2 linked regions of the Homo sapiens genome follow. The protein of the gene in region 2 purifies or fractionates together with the protein of the main gene of each other region. This does not show direct contact. Each region holds a gene or a part of one and is shown on either strand. Other genes may lie near its edges.

What was found. Proteins that work in one complex are often made in the same cells at the same time.
Region 1: the proteins of C4BPA (region 2) and C5orf15 purify together in Homo sapiens (affinity purification with mass spectrometry; one large-scale study listed by BioGRID and IntAct). This does not show direct contact.

The regions. Positions count from the first base shown.
Region 1 is NC_000005.10:133,966,525-133,970,277, reverse strand, and holds the start of C5orf15 (keratinocyte-associated transmembrane protein 2 precursor), read left to right. Parts: upstream 1-1,652; 5' UTR 1,653-1,693; coding exon 1,694-1,832; intron 1,833-3,753.
Region 2 is NC_000001.11:207,121,143-207,124,795, forward strand, and holds part of C4BPA (C4b-binding protein alpha chain precursor), read left to right. Parts: intron 1-2,779; coding exon 2,780-2,865; intron 2,866-3,032; coding exon 3,033-3,224; intron 3,225-3,653. UniProt on the Homo sapiens protein: Controls the classical pathway of complement activation. It binds as a cofactor to C3b/C4b inactivator (C3bINA), which then hydrolyzes the complement fragment C4b.

The sequences.
Region 1 (3,753 bases), on a different chromosome or scaffold from region 2:
AGAGAATTGAGACAATCTGGTATGAGGACACAAATGGACAAAGTGGACAATGAGTCAGGGAAGAGGACTGCAGTGTGTTTATTATAGATTAACTTTAAAGTCAACAAGCAGAAACTAAGATTGAGAAGCTCATTTGTTGAACTGAGTGGTTTTACAGAAAACTTAAGTACCGCTCAGAGAAGGGAAGCTCCTGGGGGACTGGGAGGACTTTGCACCTTGGCTAAAGTGGAGAGTTTGCAATAAGGACACCATTCAGTCTAATACGGGCTTCTGGGGGATTTCGGGAAATGTGCAGATGAATGACTTCTTAGTTTTCTTAACACAGAGTTTGTGTGTTTCTGAGCTGTCACCAGGGTGAGATAAAAGCTTAGGGGAAACCAGATTCAGGAGTAGAACACAGGCCCTTTAGAGAGACAGCTCAGCTGTGTCTCTGGGGGATAACAGCAATCTTCGCAGGGAATCATAGAGACCAGAATGGTGAAGCTGTGGGCACAATAAATGTCTTGCTTAACGTCACATTGATTTTCCTGAAATTGATCAAATGGAACTTTTATGAATTGAAGCCTGTATCTGTTTATTAAGGAGACATTTACAGAACGTACACACAGAGCAAAGTATGGCGCCAGGGCCCTAGGTGAACTTCTTGGAAGTTTGTAAGTTTGCATTTTTATACACTGGGGATTTCAAGTAACAAAATTTAAAAAGAGAAGCTTATTTTAGGAAATCTGAAAGTTATTTTCAATGGCAGCCCCTCACCTCTACTTCCTAGCTACCTTCCTTTCTTTTCCTCCATAATTTTTTTTTTTTTTTTGAGACGGAGTCTGTGGCCCAGGCTAGAGTGCAGTGGCATCTCGGCTCCCTGCAGCCTCCACCTCCCGGGTTACAGCGATTCTCCTACCTCAGCCTCCCGAGTAGCTGCGATTACAGGCACGCGCCACCACGCCTGGCTAATTTTTGTATTTTTAGTAGAGTCGGGGTTTCTCCATGTTGGCCAGGCTGGTCTCCAACTCCGGACCTCAGGTGATCTGCCCTCCTCGGCCTCCCAAAGTGCTGGGAGCCACTGCACTAGGGCCGGTCCATAATATCTTTATCATCTTGTATAGTGTGTATTTTACACCATATTCGCCCTCACAAGAAAATAAACTGCCAAGGCGGGCGGGGGGGTGGGGGGTTCTTTTTGTTCACTGCTGTATCTTAAATAGGGAGAGGTGCTAAATCTTTGTTGAAAAAAAATAAATGACTGTCGGGAAAGATTTTTAAAAATTACTTATAATCCCATCACCGAAATAGGACTACTTAACATTTGTGTTTCTTTCGCCTTTGAGAGAGGAAGAGCAGTTACTTCGCTTTCGTGATCAGTCTGTTCTACAGCTGGATCTTCCTTTTTAAAATGGCTAAAAACGCTATTTTTGGCTGTATAGTACCCAATCATGCAGGCGGCAGGGAGGGGCTCGCTTTGGCCCTCTTCAGCACGTCACACCCTACCTTTAATCCGCAGCCAACTGTGTGGCGGTCCCCACTTTCGCCTAGCGGCAACTCCCTCCTCCCTGCAATCCTTCCTTCTTATTCCGGTTTCCAGAGCACGTCTCCAGGCTTCGACGTCACCACGCTGGGACGTATGTGCCGAGGGCCGCGGCGTCTGACCTCATGGCGTAGAGCCTAGCAACAGCGCAGGCTCCCAGCCGAGTCCGTTATGGCCGCTGCCGTCCCGAAGAGGATGAGGGGGCCAGCACAAGCGAAACTGCTGCCCGGGTCGGCCATCCAAGCCCTTGTGGGGTTGGCGCGGCCGCTGGTCTTGGCGCTCCTGCTTGTGTCCGCCGCTCTATCCAGTGGTAAAGGGGGGCGGCAGTGTGGGCTTAGGAAGGCTAGGAGGGCTCGGGCGCAGGGCAGGAGACAGGCCGGGCCAGGGAAAGGGCGCTTCCAAGTGTCAGGAGCAGACGGCGGTGTCTGGTTGGGTCAGGGTCTCCGCGGGCCTGAGGACGGAGGGTATGGTGTCTGAAGGGGTCCAAGGTGGTAGGGTCTCCAAGGGGCCTGAGAAGCGGGGTCCCTGAGAGATGCAGGAACCCAGGGAGCAGGCAGCAGGGTGTGTAGATGGGCGGGGAGGGAGGAGTGGTGTTAGCGCCTAGAGATCGTTGAAGAATGGGCTGCCGCAAGGAATGGCGGTGGTGGGGTCTCCAAAATTTCTTGGATCGGAAAGTTAGGAGACTCTGGAAGAGAGGGTGGCGACAGGGGCTGAGGAGGTGGCCGGGGCTGGGGGTGTGGTGTCTGGAAAGGGTCCTGAGTTTGGGGGACTCAGGAATCTTGCAGGACCAAGGAAAGGTGGGGGTTTTCCAGAATGGGAGAGGTCAGTGGTAAAGACCGAGGCGGGCAGGGGCAGTAATCCAGTGACTGGACTGAACCAATGGAATATTTCCGAGAGGGAAAGTGAAAGGGAAAGAGCTGTCTTAGGGTACTGGTGCATATTTGAAGACTGGGAGGTTCTGGTGTTTGATAAAGATTCAGAGTACTGGGGCGTTGGGCCCCTGAAGGCTTGGGAGGCAGAGAGGAGTTTGGAGACAAGGGAGATCATGATTCCTCTTCCCTGTGTTCCGAGTTAACCAGGATAACCCTGCCTCGTTTTAATGCATCTGTAGGATTTGATTGATAAAATATTTCATTTCTTGCAAATGTTGCATGGTGAAATCAAGAGATTGAAGGCTTTTATTGAGAAATTAGGAAATCTGTAAACCAGTGCCTGATACTTGGTGGGAAAAATCCACTATTAAGAACTTGTAAGGATTAAACGGTATTTTGTTTAGTAGTCCCATTTTTCTTTCAGGCCAAGACACAGTCCTGCGTTTCTCCCTAAATTTGAATTTTCAGCTGCAAAACAGTGTGACCTGGTATAGTGTTTTCTTTCTTGCCAGCAGGGCCTGTCCAGCCCTACATTCCTCTGCGACAGTACTGTGGGTACATACTTATGTTTCCTCAGCAACATTTCAGTGTTGCTAACTGGACGCCCTCCCAGAAGTCTTTGCAGTCCCTGAGGAAGGACTGCTGTCCATTTCCTAAGGCCCTTTTATCATTAGTGAAATGTAATGAGGATTTCCCTGGTTGATGCAGATATTCCCGTTCCTAAAGTACTTAAGTAGCTTAATTGTTTTGGCCATTTAATCATCTAAGAAAAATAAAACACAAACATTTATATTTCCTGCTGGAATGCTTAAGGGATATATATCTGGCAACTGTAGTTTCAGAAACAGCTTTTTTCCCCTAAGAGATGGTTGAAAATTGGGCAAGAAGTGAGGCAGAATGTGGACTGTTAAGTGTCCTTTAGTCTCTGCTTTTATTTGTTAGAGCCCTATAAATATTTTTCTAACTATACTGAGACATTTTAGAGAATCTTTATCTTTTAAATTAAGTCTTTACATACACCAGTTTAAAATGTCATAAATTCAGATTATTCTGTCCTGAAAAGAAGCTAAATGAAAACGAACATACATGTCTTTAATAGGCGAGCAGCTCCACTGCACTACAGTGTAGCTTGGGATATAAGTATTTTTTGTAAGCATACCTTATAATTTCAAAGTAGTCACTCCTGTAATAAGAAAATTAGTCTAGAATGTGTTGAGTTCCAAATTTCAAGTGAGTTTACAAAGGTAGAAGGTTACCACATTAGATTTATTTAAATTTGTTCCATATTAGGTTTTAAAAACTGTCAATGCTTGGTTATATGCTCGTCAGTCTGTAAGAATTTTTGTTTTATGTTTTTGT
Region 2 (3,653 bases):
TATTATGCTTGTCTTTATATACCTTAAGCATGAAGATAGGAGTTAAAGTAAATTAATAATTTTATAATTATTTTAACCATTATAAAATAATTTAATGATAATTAGCATATTTTGATTATTTTTCTTGTCTCATATACTTCTGTTTTATTAAAATTGCTGCTACATACATATTTTGCTACATAAAGATTCATAGCTCTTCACTGAAAATCAAAATCTTTAACATATAAAGTACCCATTGTGTGTCATTTAATAATCTTGGTTCTGATGTCCAACTTATGGGATATTAAAATTATTATCTTTGGTTTTCTTTTGAATTTGCTTGGTATAATTTTATGCTGTCTTTTATTTTTAATCTGTCTGAAACACTTTTAGGTTTGTCTCCTGTATATAACAGAGCTGAATTTTCTCCAATTAAAAGCTGTTTTTCTTTCATTAGGAGTTTACATTTATTGATGTGAGTGATACTTATAGACTTGGTTTTATCATATTATTTCATATTTTGTTATATATGTATGTGTATATTTATTTTCTATTAAAAATATATGGTGGTATTTAGGAAGGTTCAAAATTTGTTTCTAGTGGTGACCTATATACATTTAAATTTATATAATATCATTATTCCTCTTTATCTTTAGACAGTTTAAATTGGTTCCTTGTTATAAACAACAATAAACTTATCTTGTATTCTTACCCCTCCTTCACCCCTTCTATCTTCCCTACCAGTAAATTTGTATCATTTGTATTATCTTAGTGTTTATTTTGTATTTAACATTAATGTGAAATATTCATATGTGTCTATGGTTGCTTTCATTCTCAACTTTGCAAATGATCAGGCAATAAGGGAATTTATTTTACCCTCTCTTCCCTGTCTCTATTTTTTCTTAGTTATACTATTTCAGTGCTGTCTGAGCATATAACATTTATATTTCCTTCAGTCACACTTAAAATCACATTTGTTTTTTCTTAGATCTGCATGTACAATGTTTGCTACCATTTTTGTTTATTTTGGCTAAAGTTGCCATTGTCATCTCTTGGTTGGCTGTAGTTTGTCCTATGGTGGTTTCCAAAAAAAAGTCCCAAGTGAAAATTATTCTTTGAGTTCTTGCAGGTTCAGATAATATATCTGAGGCATTGATACCTAGAAGATAATGGGGCTTGATATAGTCCTTGGCTCATCCTTTCTTTTCTTGGATGTCTTATAGGTACTGCTGCACTATCTTTTGCTAGTGAATACTACTGATCTGAAATTTCTTCTCATATGGCTTGATCTTTGTTTGACTATCTAAATTATTATTCTTTATCTTTGAAACCTAATACTTTTACTCTTAGTTGTTTTGGTAGAAATCACTTGGTTTAATTTTTTGCTACTATGTGATGTGCAATTTTAATATGTAGATTGACGTATTGTTTTATTTTAGTAACATTTACTTGAAATATATATATTTTTTGAGTCAAGGTCTCACTCCCTTTGCCCAGGCTGGAGTGCAGTGGCACGATCATAGCTCACTGCAGCCTCAACTTCCTGGGCTCAAGCAATCCTCCCACCTCAGCCTCTCAAGTAGCTGGGACTACAGGAGAGCAGCACCATGCCCAGCTGATTTTTGTATTTTTAATAGAGATGGGGTTTTGTCATATTGGCCAGGCTGGTCTTGAACTCCTGGTCTCAAAGAATTCACCTGCCTCAGCGTCCCAAAGTACTGGTATTACAGGAGTAAGCCACCACACCTGGCCTGAAACAAATTTTTAAAAAGCTATTTTGTTCTACTTGGATTCCTTCTTTAGGTTATCCAATTAAGCCTATGTTGATTCTCTTTTGCTTGTTACCTATATCTATTAGTTTTCTCTTATCTTTTCCGTTTGTTTCATTTTTGTTGATTTTCTCATTTTTATCCTCTGTTTTCCTTATTGTGTATGGCTTCCATAAGGGAAAGTGAAAAGAATCAGAACTAAGATGCTGTTGAAACACTAAGGTGTTCCCATTGAAACAACCAGAAACAATATTTTGCACTTAGTCTCTGGGCTAGGTTGGAAAAACTACATTTTAAAGAAATTTTAAAGTAAAGAAATACTTAATTGTAGTTGTAGTTGAGATATATTTTCTTGAAGTTATTATTCAATAAATTCCACAGGCTCTTAGATTGCTGAAGGTGACATTTGCTTTAGTGTTCTATCACATTGTAAGTTTATTCCTTGATGATGCTACAATTTGATATCATTGATGATTATCAATATCCTTGATGATGCTACAATTTGTAATCATTCATATCTTTTGTTTTTTTCTGTTAGCATAAGATAGAGGGCAGGAAGACGAACTGAGGAAAGAGTAGGACATATCAAGAGCCGTAAAAATGGAAGTGGTGAACTGAAAGCTAATGATGTATGGGAATAAGACACCCACCTGGAAGTCAGAGGAAGCTTCAAGCCAAAGATGGGGAGATTGTGGACTCAGTAATCTAGCTGGTACTCTCACCCAGAGACAACCACAGAACACGCTGAAGCCAGCCTTTTATTGTTGTGCTTGAGCTCTGGATGAACTGCATTCCTGATCCCTAGTAGATGCTCAGTAACAGATTAAGGAATGAGGGTCCAAAGGAAAAAACACACGCATCTCATTGCAGTAATGAAATTTTACTGAATGGAGTGCTTAATGGGAAATGATATCCAAGAACATATGATTTCCTTATTTTAATATTGAGTAACAATTCTATTTGCTCAGACCTCTTTAATTTAATTTAGGGTAGGAGGAATTCCATTAAAATCTTTGATCTATCTTATTCAGATTTTTCTTAATTGGCTCAACCACTAGTCGTTGTGAAGTCCAAGATAGAGGAGTTGGCTGGAGTCATCCTCTCCCACAATGTGAAAGTAAGTAAAGACTCTTCTGACTTGACTATCAATTTAAACTCTGTTAGGTAATAAAGTCCCTGTGCATCTTTACAGGTATGTGTACCTTCCATTAGAATTTGCATGAATTTTAGATTTATCATGATGCCTTCGCTGAGTATTTCTTTCTCTTCACTCACTTACCTCAGTTGTCAAGTGTAAGCCTCCTCCAGACATCAGGAATGGAAGGCACAGCGGTGAAGAAAATTTCTACGCATACGGCTTTTCTGTCACCTACAGCTGTGACCCCCGCTTCTCACTCTTGGGCCATGCCTCCATTTCTTGCACTGTGGAGAATGAAACAATAGGTGTTTGGAGACCAAGCCCTCCTACCTGTGAAAGTAAGTCATAATGATGAATTCTGCATCAAAATGTTTGCTCTCTTTTGTTTAAAAGAGAAAGAAAGGTAAATTTATTGGGGGGCAAATGGAAAATTCAAAGATAAACTAACTATCGCTCTGATGCAATCATTTATTTGGCCACCTGATACTTATTGCATGTTTGTTTAGAATATAAAAGCCATAAAAATGGGAGTGGTGAACTGGGAGCTAACAGTATATGGGAACAAACAGCAACAACATCTCACTGGTTTGGTGAAGTAAAAGTTTATTCTCATTTACACTGAGTTTGTTCCATGTCCAGGAGACTCTCCAGGGCAGCCGTAGTCTGTGTTAGCTTAGCAACTAGCTCAGCAAGCCAGGTTGCTTTGATCTTATGGCACCTCCATTTCAAAATGTGCCTTCACAGTCTCTTCAGTAGACGAAGAGAGA